3 linked regions of the Homo sapiens genome follow. The protein of the gene in region 1 purifies or fractionates together with the protein of each later gene. This does not show direct contact. Each region holds a gene or a part of one and is shown on either strand. Other genes may lie near its edges.

What was found.
Region 2: the proteins of LYRM7 (region 1) and ALDH1L1 purify together in Homo sapiens (co-immunoprecipitation; one large-scale study listed by IntAct). This does not show direct contact.
Region 3: the proteins of LYRM7 (region 1) and PC purify together in Homo sapiens (affinity purification with mass spectrometry; one large-scale study listed by BioGRID and IntAct). This does not show direct contact.

Annotation. Positions count from the first base shown.
Region 1 is NC_000005.10:131,201,921-131,206,053, forward strand, and holds the end of LYRM7 (complex III assembly factor LYRM7), read left to right. Parts: 3' UTR 1-3,508; downstream 3,509-4,133.
Region 2 is NC_000003.12:126,156,564-126,160,211, reverse strand, and holds part of ALDH1L1 (cytosolic 10-formyltetrahydrofolate dehydrogenase), read left to right. Parts: intron 1-36; exon of another isoform or gene 37-129; intron 130-1,572; coding exon 1,573-1,807; intron 1,808-2,703; coding exon 2,704-2,869; intron 2,870-3,648. UniProt on the Homo sapiens protein: Cytosolic 10-formyltetrahydrofolate dehydrogenase that catalyzes the NADP(+)-dependent conversion of 10-formyltetrahydrofolate to tetrahydrofolate and carbon dioxide.
Region 3 is NC_000011.10:66,853,795-66,857,442, reverse strand, and holds part of PC (pyruvate carboxylase, mitochondrial precursor), read left to right. Parts: exon of another isoform or gene 1-379; intron 380-1,155; exon of another isoform or gene 1,156-1,297; intron 1,298-1,485; exon of another isoform or gene 1,486-1,626; coding exon of another isoform or gene 1,627-1,629; intron 1,630-2,309; exon of another isoform or gene 2,310-2,347; coding exon of another isoform or gene 2,348-2,416; intron 2,417-3,648. UniProt on the Homo sapiens protein: Pyruvate carboxylase catalyzes a 2-step reaction, involving the ATP-dependent carboxylation of the covalently attached biotin in the first step and the transfer of the carboxyl group to pyruvate in the second.

The sequences.
Region 1 (4,133 bases):
ACCCCTGGGGCTCAGCAGTTATGCCAACTAAGCCTCCCAAATAGCTGAGACTAGAGGTATGCGCCACCACACCTAGCTATTTTTTTTATTTTTAGTAAGGACAAGGTCTCATTATGTTGGCCAGGCTGGTCTCAAATTCCTGAGCTCAGTTGATCCTCCCACCTCAGCCTCCCAAAGTGCTGGGATTACAGGTGTAAGCCACTGCACCCTGCCTATTCTTATAATCATATATTTATATTTCAAATGGATTTTAACTGGTTATTTAATAGTTTAATTAGATAAAGTAATTCATGGCTGGGTGTGGTGGCTCACGCCTGTAATCCCAGCACTTTGGCAGGCTGAGGCAGGTGGATTACCTGAGGTCGGAAGTTCGAGACCAGCCCAACCAACGTGGAGAAACCCCATCTCTATTAAAAATGCAAAATTAGCAGGACATGGTGATACACACCTGTAATCCCAGCTAGTCAGGAGGCTGAGGCAGGAGAATTACTTGAGCCAGGGAAGCAGAGGTTGTGGTGAGCTAAGATTGTGCCACTGCACTCCAGCCTGAGAGAACAAGACTCCGTCTCAAAAAAAGAAAAAAAGAAAACTTTTTTACACATGGGTATCTCACCATGTTGCCCAGGCTGGAGTGCAGTAGCTATTCATAGGCACAGTCATAGCACACTGCAGCCTAGAATTTCTGACCTCAAGCAATCATCCTGCCTCAGCCTCCTAAGTAGCTAGGACTACAGGTGCATACCACCATAACCAGCTTTAATTAAATGTTTTTTATTTGGTTATTTTTTTTAAGTTTTCTGTATTCACACAAGGGGTTGCCCAAATATAATTTTGCTTTGACTATTGAGATCTAGTGAAAGTGGGGTATATGAATTCTAATTGCAAATATCCAGGCTCAGAGGCCCAGCAGGACTTTCTAACACAATCTTTTAGCGGAAGTTAGAAATGGTATATAGCAGGAGAGTCAGATTTGAGAAGCATATGTAGATTCGAAGCTGGGGGAATATGGCAGGTAGTTTGTACAACATCTAATTCAGAACATTAAAATTAAGATTTTAGTCAAACTGTGTTTAAGTTAGTTCTTATTTTCCTGTAGATGCATCTCACAGCATCAGTACAATACCAAAAAAGCACACAAGAATAAGAATATGTGGAATTTCTATACCTATTGACAAAGCACATAATTTAACCATAAACACAAAGCCATAGGTCAACAAAGAAATGAAGATTCCAGTTCTGAAGGTGAGTTTTCTGAAGCCAAAGTGGATACATGCAAAATTAATATAGTTTTACTGTATATCAGTTGTCACCAATCAGAAATGGAAAACAGATCCTATTTATAATTGCAAACAAAACTGTAAAATAGACTTTTTAAAGTCTGGGAATAGACTTCTAAAATAAGCTATAACACTTAAAAAGGAGAGATATACTATGTTCCTAGATAGGACAATTGAAAATTCTGGAGATGACAGTTTTTCAAAAATCTATTGAGGCCAGGTGCAGTGGCCCATGCCTGTAGTTCCAGTACTTTGGGAGGCCTAGGTGGGTGGATCACCTGAGGTTGGGAGTTTGAGACCAGCCTGACCAACATGGAGAAACCCCGTCTCTACTAAAAATACAAAATTAGCCAGGCGTGGTGGTGCATGCCTGTAATCCCAGCTACTCGGGAGGCTGAGGCGTGAGAATCGCTTGAACCCGGTAGGCAGATGTTGCAGTGAGCCGAGATCGCACCATTGCACTCCAGCCTAGGCAACAAGAGCGAAACTCCATCTCAAAAATAGAAAAAACATTTATCGAAATCCCAACAAGTTGACAAATATATCCACATAAAAATATAAAACTTCTGTATTCTGTGAAAGCTACTATAAATAAAGTTTAGAGAAAGTTATTTGCCACCTATGTCATGATTGAAATAGTTAATTGATCCTGTGAATCAGTTAGCAAAACATAACTCAATGGAAAGATAGGCAAATGATACAAATAAGAAATTCACAAAAGAAGAAATACTAAGTCTCTAGTGATGAGAGAAATGTAAATTAAAATGAAACATGTTTGTTCATCAAGTTGTCACAAGTTAGACAATCATATCCAATATTTTTAAAGGTTGTAAGACTATAAGGAAATAGCCACTGTCATATCATTTTTAAAGGAATATAAATTATAGGGCCTTTTGTTTCTTTGGGTTTTTTTTTTTTAGAGACAAGATCTCTCCGTGTTGTCTAGGCTGGACTCAAACTTCTGGACTCAAGCAATCCTCGCAACATCATTAATAGCTGAGAGTAGAGACTTGAGCCACCACACCTGACTATAGGGCCTTTTTGAAAGGAAAATTGACATCATCAAAATTTTAAATATATTCAGTCTATTTCTCAAAAACTCAAAGAATACTAATAAATGTGTACTCAGGTATATGTACAGAAATTGCTGTAACATTATAATTTTAAACAATTTAAAACAGACTGAGTTTCCAAAGTTAGGGTACAATGAAAGAAAAGGTGGCTTATTTATACTCTGGAATATTTTCCAAGAGTTGAAAAGGATGAGGATACACACACACACACACACACACACACACACACACACACACACACACAGTTTGGGTATCCCTAATCCAGAAATTCAAATGCTCCAAAGTCCAAAACTTTCTGACCCACCAACATGACTGATGCTCAAAGGAAATGGCCACTGGAAGATTTCAGATTTTCAGATTTGGAGTGCTCAACCAGTAAGTATATAATGCAAATAATCCAAAATACAAAAAAAAAAAAAAAGAAATCTGAAACACTTCTGATCCCAAGCATTTCAGAAAACGGATGTTCATTTGTGTGTGTGTGTGTGTGTAAGCAGGTGTTGCTAGAAATTCACTTATATACAAGAAAACTTTTTGTGTACATATTTGCATATATATGTACAAATGGGTAGAAACGATACATGATTAATCTTAATCGGGAAGGAAAAGAGATTTAGGGAAGGAAGCAGTAAGTGAGAACTTTTATTCTATTTACTCCTGCACGTTTAAATATTGTTTACAGTGAGTATATCAACATGTAAGTGTTAAAAGACAATAAGCTACTAGTGATTTTTAATATAAAATTAACTATAAAATATTTTAAATATTAGCAAATAATATAGCACACTCATGAACCTAATTCCCACATTTGATAGTTGTTACATTTTGCCATGTTTGTTTAAAGGTCTAAGTCATAAAATCTTATAAAGCTAAACCCCACCCTTCTCTTTCTCCTCTCTCTCCAGGATAATTACTGTTTTATAGTTTGTGGATATCATTCCCTTACTTGTGTTTATACTTTTACCAAGTGTGTATGTATTCAAAAAACAGTTGTTTTGTGATTTTAAAATGTAAATGAATGGCGTTATGCTCCATGTATTCTGCAACTTTTCATCATACATTAGGTTTTGGCGATTTAGCCATAATTTGGCATGAATTCAGGTCTTTTAAGTTTTATTCCATTGTAAGAATAAACAAGTTTGTTCATTCATGTCTCCATTGATGAGTGATAGTATTGTCTCCAGTTTTTTTATGTTGCAAACCAATTTGCAAAAAACTCTGGCACATAGATTTTTACACCCAAGAAAAAGTTTACCTGGACATACACCAAGGAGCAGAACTGTTGAGTCCTAGCGTATGTGCATATTCAGCTTTTCCAGAAATTTCTAAATTGCTCTTTAAAATAGTTGTACCAGTTTACATTCCAATCGACAGTGTGTGAAAGGTCCCATTTCCCCACATCCTCACTGTTATGTATGATTTTTCTCATTGTCAAACTAATGGATATAAAATGGTATATTGTTTTAATTTGCATTTCTTAATTACTGGGGAGGCAGATCATCTTGTCATATGTTTATTGGCCATTATGGTTTCCCATTATGAATGTGTGTCTCTATCTTTTGTCCTCTTTTCTCTGTTGGGTTGTCTGGCTTTTTCTAACCAATCCTTTATATATTCTGGATACTAGTCCTTTGTTAATTATCTTTTTCCAATATGTGGCTTGTCTTTTAGTTTATGATAAACTTGACTGGGCTAAGGGATGCCCATATAGCTGGTAAATATTATTTCTGTGGTGTCTGTGAGGGTGTTTCTAGAAGAGATTAGCATTTCACTTGGTAGTCTC
Region 2 (3,648 bases), on another chromosome or scaffold:
GAGGTGGAAAAGTCAGAATTAGGTGAAATTGTTAACCTGGGACAAGTTCCTGGGAGATACTGGCATCTCTTGTACTAGGAAAAGCACGTTTTGAGAATCATGGGTCTGGGTCACTGCCTTTGAGCTGGGAACCTCAGCAGACAGGATGCAGGGGCCTCAGCTTGGATGAACAGACCCTCTAGGAACACTGACTGGTCCTTCTCAGGCCTGATGGAGACAGACTGTGGGGCAGGGCTTAAGGATAGAGGGCCAGGATTAGGAAAGGGGGCTTGTAGGCCTGGCCAGGCACAGAGGTGTAGTTTGTTAAGGAAAGCCAGTCTCCCTCAGTGGGGAAGCTGCAGCCTGGCCCTAGAATCAACTCCAACACTCAACACCCAATGCCAGCCAGGCTTCAGTCTTGGACCTGACCACAAGTGACCCATGACATACCCTGACCCCACCACAGCCTGGGTCCTACACCCAGCCACTAAGTGACCACTGACCCCAGCTGCTGACCCTGGACCCAGACCAGGCCTGGCTGGGACTCCTACTTGGCCTTGATCTCAGATGTCCTGAAGCAGTATTTCATTGGTCACTGTGGGACAGCTTTTGCAAGTGCAGTCCAATCTGCTGACATCACATCCCACCCTCTCTCAAAACTACCAGACACCAGGACAGAGTGACAGAGGAGGAGACCGGAGAGGAGAGCCAGTCCAGTCAGGGCCCAAACATCACACCAGAGGCTCTAACAGAGAACTGAATACAAAGAAGTGTTCCTTGGGTATTGAAGAGTGGAAGGCAGAGAGCCCAAAGTTATTGGGGACAGCGACTGCAGGAAGCAGCTGCCACTGTAAGGCTAAGATAAAGGAGGACGCTTTAACTATAAAAACTTGGGAGCTTGGGCCTGTAATCCAGACCTGTGAGGAGGGTGTGCTGGTGACGGGGCAGGAGGAGGGGCCCTGCAGGCTGTATCTGGTCCTCTGGGGTGTGTGTGTGTGTGTGTGTGTGTGCACGCATGTGTGCATATTGAGGCTAGTTCTGCAGATGATGGAAAAACTGATTTAGCCATTGCTCTGAGAAGGAACGACTGTGACTGGGATGAAGAAGCTGGGCTGGGGGAGGCTCACAGGACAGGAACCCACTGGACAGAAAGGAGTGGGGATGCCCTGTTGCCCTTCTTCCCCTTCTTCCTCCATCAGGGAACAGCTGACAAAGCAGAAATGCCATCTGCAGGGGGGCAGTCCCCATCACAGAGTGAGCAGTAGAGGGGGCCGGAAGACAGTAACTCAGTGACGGGGATGGCAAGGCCTCAGGAGAGGAATGAGGGCAGAGGTCAGCCATCTGGGTTCTGGAAGAGGGAGGCACTCAGAGGTCCTGGGGTTCAGCAAAAGTCAGGATGCAGGCAGGGCAGTCCCCAGAGCCTCATGCTTGGCTGGTGCATCCGTCTGTGTTGCCCAGTGGAGCCTGGCTGGGGTGTGGGTGAGGGGGCAGGAATGGAGAGAAGTCCTATGAGCTGCTCTGCTGGGAAGGCAGAGGTGGCTGCGTGTGGGTGGGTTATGGAGAGGGGCCAGTTTCTTATCCACCGTCCCACAGGTCTGGAAGCTGAGAAGGATGGAGTGCCGGTATTCAAGTACTCCCGGTGGCGTGCAAAAGGACAGGCTTTGCCTGATGTGGTGGCAAAATACCAGGCTTTGGGGGCCGAGCTCAACGTCCTGCCCTTCTGCAGCCAATTCATCCCCATGGAGATAATCAGTGCCCCCCGGCATGGCTCCATCATCTATCACCCGTCACTGCTCCCTAGGCACCGAGGGGCCTCGGCCATCAACTGGTGAGATGGGGCAAAAACACAGGGGGCCATCCCCATACATGTCCCTCCATCAGCCTGACTTGTCACTTTCCATTAGCCCAAAGCATTTCTAGGGCTGCAGAGTGGGCATCGTGCAGGTGCCTGTCCTGTGGCTGCCAGATGTCAGCCACAGAACAGGCTGTGCAACGTTATCAATGAGTGAAGGCTCTAGAGCACTGGGAGCAGGTGTTGCTAAGCACTCTGCATTCCCACAGTTATTGGAGAAGCTGGCACTGTCAGTGTTCCCATCCCCCAGCTGAGACAGAGAGGGCACCAGAAGGCGCAGGGACAGAGAGGGCACCAGGAGGCGCAGGGGCCAGGGTGCCACCCCAGGCGGTGGGCTGGGGGTCCTACTCTAACTTCCACTGCCGCTGCTCTGGGCAGCACACTTCGTAGAAAGAGATAAAGATGGAGCAAAGGATGGCCTCCACAAGGTACTCTGAGGGGACAGAATTCCCAAGACAACAAATGGGGTGACAAGGCAGATGGGTGGTCAAAGAGGGAAGACATTTGAGTTGAGAAAAGAGAGTGGATTTGTAGTCGGACTGGTCTGTTGAGATTCAGGCTCTCTGATCTTTGTGGGTGTCGCTTCACTTTTCTGGGCCTTAGTTTCCCTATCTGTAAACCGAGTATACCTGTTATCCCTGCTGTGAGGACTCAGTTACATAAGGCATATAGAGCTTTTAGCACAATTCCTGGCCCATGGTTGTTATCAATACATGCTGTTTTCCTTCTTCCGTTTCCCGCCGGAGCCGGTGTCAGTCCTACCCCTGGGAAGAGAGGGCCTCCTGGAGGGTGGCAGGTCCACGGGCCTGTACCCAGGACATCCTCCGTGGCCCTTCATCGTGGACTCCAGGTTTCACTCTTCTGCTTCCTAGGACCCTCATTCACGGAGATAAGAAAGGGGGGTTTTCCATCTTCTGGGCGGATGATGGTCTGGACACCGGAGACCTGCTGCTGCAGAAGGAGTGTGAGGTGCTCCCGGACGACACCGTGAGCACGCTGTACAACCGCTTCCTCTTCCCTGAAGGCATCAAAGGGATGGTGAGGACCTGGAGCCGGCCGCGCCCTGCCCGCCCCGACGCACCCTCAAGCATCCTCCCTAGACCCAGCCCACCGCTCCTGGAGGCCAGGAATCTGTTCCCCAAATTCAGGATTCTGGAGGGAGAGGAGCTCTCACTTCAAGGTTTCAGAGGCAGGATTAGGACAAACAGTGTATTGTATTAGGAGGGAATCTTGCTCACAACGGACAGAACCCAGCTCAAAAAGCGTTTGGCAAAAAGGGGACATTTTGGGGCCCGTTCAATAGACAAGGAAGGCTAAAGGCAGGGACTGGGTCACACCCTGCTGAATCCAGGAGCTTCAATTATGACATCGTTAGGATTCTATTTCTCTCTCCTTCACTCGTTGATTCTCCTTTTCTCTGTGTGATTTGTTTCATTCTCAGTTTGGCTGCCCTGAATTAGAGGAAAGATAGCCACTATAGCTCAAGGATTCTAATTCTTGATTCCAGGGAAAGAGAAACACTTTTTCTCCTAGAATTCATCAATCACAAATCAGGGGAGATTCTGATTGGCCAGCTTGGGGGTCATGTGATCCTCATGAGCCAATCACCAGCTGGGGTGATGGAGTGCTCTGATAGGCTGTCTCCGTCACATGCTTCCTGCTGGGAAGGCCGTGACCTGTGGTCACATGGCCTGAGCGGCAGGGCGGCTCAGTCACCTGGGCAGCTGGTACTGCTGAGAGGCAGGGTGGCAGGCTATGGGCCGGAGCCCACAGCTGCAGGAGGGGCCCGGGGATCATATGTGAGGGCTGCTTGCCCC
Region 3 (3,648 bases), on another chromosome or scaffold:
TTTCCCAGGCGTCCCCAGGAATCGCCAGCCGCCTCCCCACTCCCCGCCATACCCTCCCCCGCCAGAGAAGGCGCCCCCCGAACCTCCCGTGGAGTCCGTGGCCCCTCCCTGGCCGGCCCCCGCGCTGCGCCCGGCGGCCCCCTCACCTGGTGTCCGTCGCTCAGGGGGCGCGGGCCGGCCTCCCTGCGAGCCCGGCCGGCCCCCGCCGACTCCTGGCCGCTCTCCCGCGGGGACGAGGCCCGGGGATGACCGGCCGCCCGCCGCCCACCCTCGGGCCCATGGCGCTCGGGCCCGCGGCCCCGGCTCGCTCGGTTCCCGGCACCTTTTCCCGGCGCGGTTAGCGGTGGCGGCGGCGACAGGCGAGCGGGTGCGCGCCGGCGGGCGCGCGCGCCGCGGACACGCACGTGGAGGGCGGACGGGGAGGGGCGCGCGGGGATCCACCCGGGCCCGGGCCGGCTCCTGAGGTCACGGGGACACGCGGCCGCTGCAGCGCCCACGGGTGGCGCCCAGTCACGCCCGAGGCCCGGGCCGGCGCGGGCCCTCCGCGCTGTCCCCCGGCGCTGCCGCAGCGCACTCACCCTGGCACAGGCGCGCGCGCCCCCGGCCATCCTGGCGCCCCGGCATCCTGCACCGCACGGGCGCCCGCCGCCGCGGCGCGAACCTCACTCTGCAGACAGCCAGACAAAGCGCCTGCTCGCGGGCCCCTTCACCATCTCCCGGAGACGGGCGTCTTTGTCACATGTCGCTGGGCACCCTCCCCAACACACCCACACATGCCCACACACCCACACGTCCCTGCACCCACGGGCAGGGCCGAGCGCAAACCCGCACTGTTGCTGGGACCCTTGCGTTCACAGACACACGCTGAAGGTCATAACCGTTCTGCATCACCGAGTCACGTGGAGGGTCCCCAACCGGCACGGGGTTCGGCCGTGGGGGGGGCTGGGGCGGCGCCCCTGGCAGGGCTGCTGCGGGGTGGGGCCGAGAGGGCTTGGCCTCCGGGCAGGCGCCCCGCCCCCGCCGCCCCGCCCTGTCCCCAGCTGCCTCTCGCCTCTCCCTCCCTCCCCAGCTGCCCCGCCCGCCCCGCGGGCCAGGCGTTCCGGAGCCAACCGGCCTCCGCCTCGGGCCGGATTGGTCTGCGCGGCGCGGCTTCCCAACCGCCGGGGGCACGCATTGGGAAGCTGTGCGTCCTCGCAGCGCCTGCGGCCCCTCCCTCCCGCTCTGTCGCCGCCGGGCCATTTCCCTGGAAGAGCGGCTCGGAACCAGCTCCTCTCAGAGAAAGGGCTCCCGGCGTGAGGTGGGGGAGGTTCTTTGCTTCCTGGTTGAGAAAGCTGGGGCTTCGGTGGCTCGGCGAGCCTGGTTTCCTTCCAGCTGTGCCCGCCACCACCAGTGGTCTGCCCAGTTGGGAAACAGGAAGTCACCACCTCCCCGTGTCTCCTGGTCCTTAAGCCACCTAAACCTCAGCCATCCTCGTTCTCCCTCCAGCCCTGATCCCCATGGGCCAGGTGGCAGGAAACTCGGGGAAACCCAAGATTGGAATTCTGATCCTGTCAGCACAGCAGTGTAGTCCTGGGCACGTTACCTGACCACTGAAAACAAGTTCCTCCTGTAGGCCAGGAGAGTTGGATGGTACATACATAAGCATTTCCTAGGGGCGAGAGGGGAGGACAGCTGCAGCTTGTGAGGGGCTTACAGGCAGCCAGAAGCCATTCTGTCACCACTCACTGGGCCTCAGCTGTGGCGTTTGTAAAATGAGGGGGATTCAGTCCTGGTGCAGGTCAACTCTGATGTGCAGTGGCACCAGCTATGTCTTTGTTCCTCTTCTCCCCATCAAAAATGTTTTCCACCGGGTGCAGTGGTTCATGCCTGTAATCCCAGCAGTTTGGGAGGCCGAGGCGGGTGGATCACTTGAGGCCAGGAGTTCCAGACCAGCCTGGCAAACATGGCGAAACCCCATCTCTATTAAAAATACAAAAATTAGCCGGGCGTGGTACCGCATGTCTGTTGGGATGAGGCACGAGAATCGCATTAACCAGGGAGCCACAGGTTGCAGTGAGCTGAGATTGTGCCACTGAATTCCAGCCTGGGCGACACACTTTGTCTCAAAAAAAAAGTTTTCATTCACTCTAAATATAGATGTTTACCAGCATCCACCATGGCCACCCAGTGCTGGGAGCCGGGTTCATCAGGAACCAGATGGGCCTGGTTCCTGCCCCCATAGAGCTTACAGTATGGAGGAGAGGATGGGCAACCCGACAGTCACAAAGGGGAGACTCAGTGGGGACCCTCCACATGACTCGGTGATGCAGAACGGTTATGACCTTCAGCGTGTGTCTGTGAACACAAGGGTCCCAGCAACAGTGTGGGTCTGCGCTCAGCCCTGCCCGTGCAGGTTCCTCAGCGGCCTGCTGGAAAGGTGAGCATCAGCTCTGCCGAGGGTGTGAGGACAGGGCGAAGGCCTCCAAGGGTCCTTCTCACTCTGCGCGCTCGGGGCTCTTTGGATGGTTTCATTAGCTGCCTCCCTTCTCCAGTGCCATGCCTTGGCCCAGCTGAAATGTCAGCATCTCTTCAGGAGAGGCAGGGGCGAGGCTCAGGGGCAGACAGGCACAGCACTGCTGGCGGGGTCCCACTCTGTGGTGAGCACCTGACAGGCTGGTGGGGGAGGCACCCTTCCTGTCCAGGCCTCCAGGTAATAGGAGCCTAAGAGACGGAGAGCTCAGAGGAGTCTGGGTGGCCTTGAGTCCCTGTTGAAGGTGCCGACAGGGATCATGAATAAGTGACGCGTGGAGGTGTTTTCTTCGCGGTGGAAGCCAGGGCTGTCGCTACACAGCCACAGGCCATGCTTTCACAGGTCTTGGAGCACCTGTCACAGTGCTGGCTCGCATGTCCCCGTTTAAGTCATACTCACCCTGGCCCAGCCTCATGTTGTCACCCAGGCATTTAATGAGTGGAACCGAGGGCCCCTGTGCACAAAGTGCACTGACACATGCCTCAGGCAGCACCCTGCCCCCAAGGGTTCCCAGGCAGACAAGCAGAGGATGAAGCCGATGGGTGTGCTTGCCCACAGCGGGTTCCTCAGGGGACTGCTGGAAAGGTGAGTGTCAGCTCTGCCGAGGGTGTGAGGACAGGGCGAAGGCCCTTGAGAAGTTCAGGGAGAGCTTCCCAGGCAGGTGCAAAGGTGTGGAGCGCAAGGCAAGTTTGATGTGGCTGGAGGTGGCCACAATGAGGAAGGCGGTGGAGGGTGTGGCCTGGAGATGGAGAAGAGGTCACAAGGTCCCAAAATGGCCGTGGTCGAATCCTCTGGCTTGACCAGTGGCATGGGAGGAGTGGGTGATGAGGGTGATGGGATGCAGGTTTTGGTAACTGGGGGGACAGTGGGGCACCCACTGGGCACAGGAGGACTGGGTGCATAGGCAGGAAGCTGGCCGTGGACTTGCTGAACTTATGCGAGGGGTGAACAAGGAAAGGCCCGGGAGGCAGTTGCACCTCTGGGTCTTGCCCTGGAGGCAGAGCCTGTCACTGGCGCCACAGCCCCGGGACGGGGCCTCCTGGGGAGCATGTGGTGTGTGAGGAGCTGGGGAGGAAGAGGACAGGAGAGCAAGATGGCTTGGAAGCCCAGGGAACGAGCAGCAAGGCGGGAGCATGCCC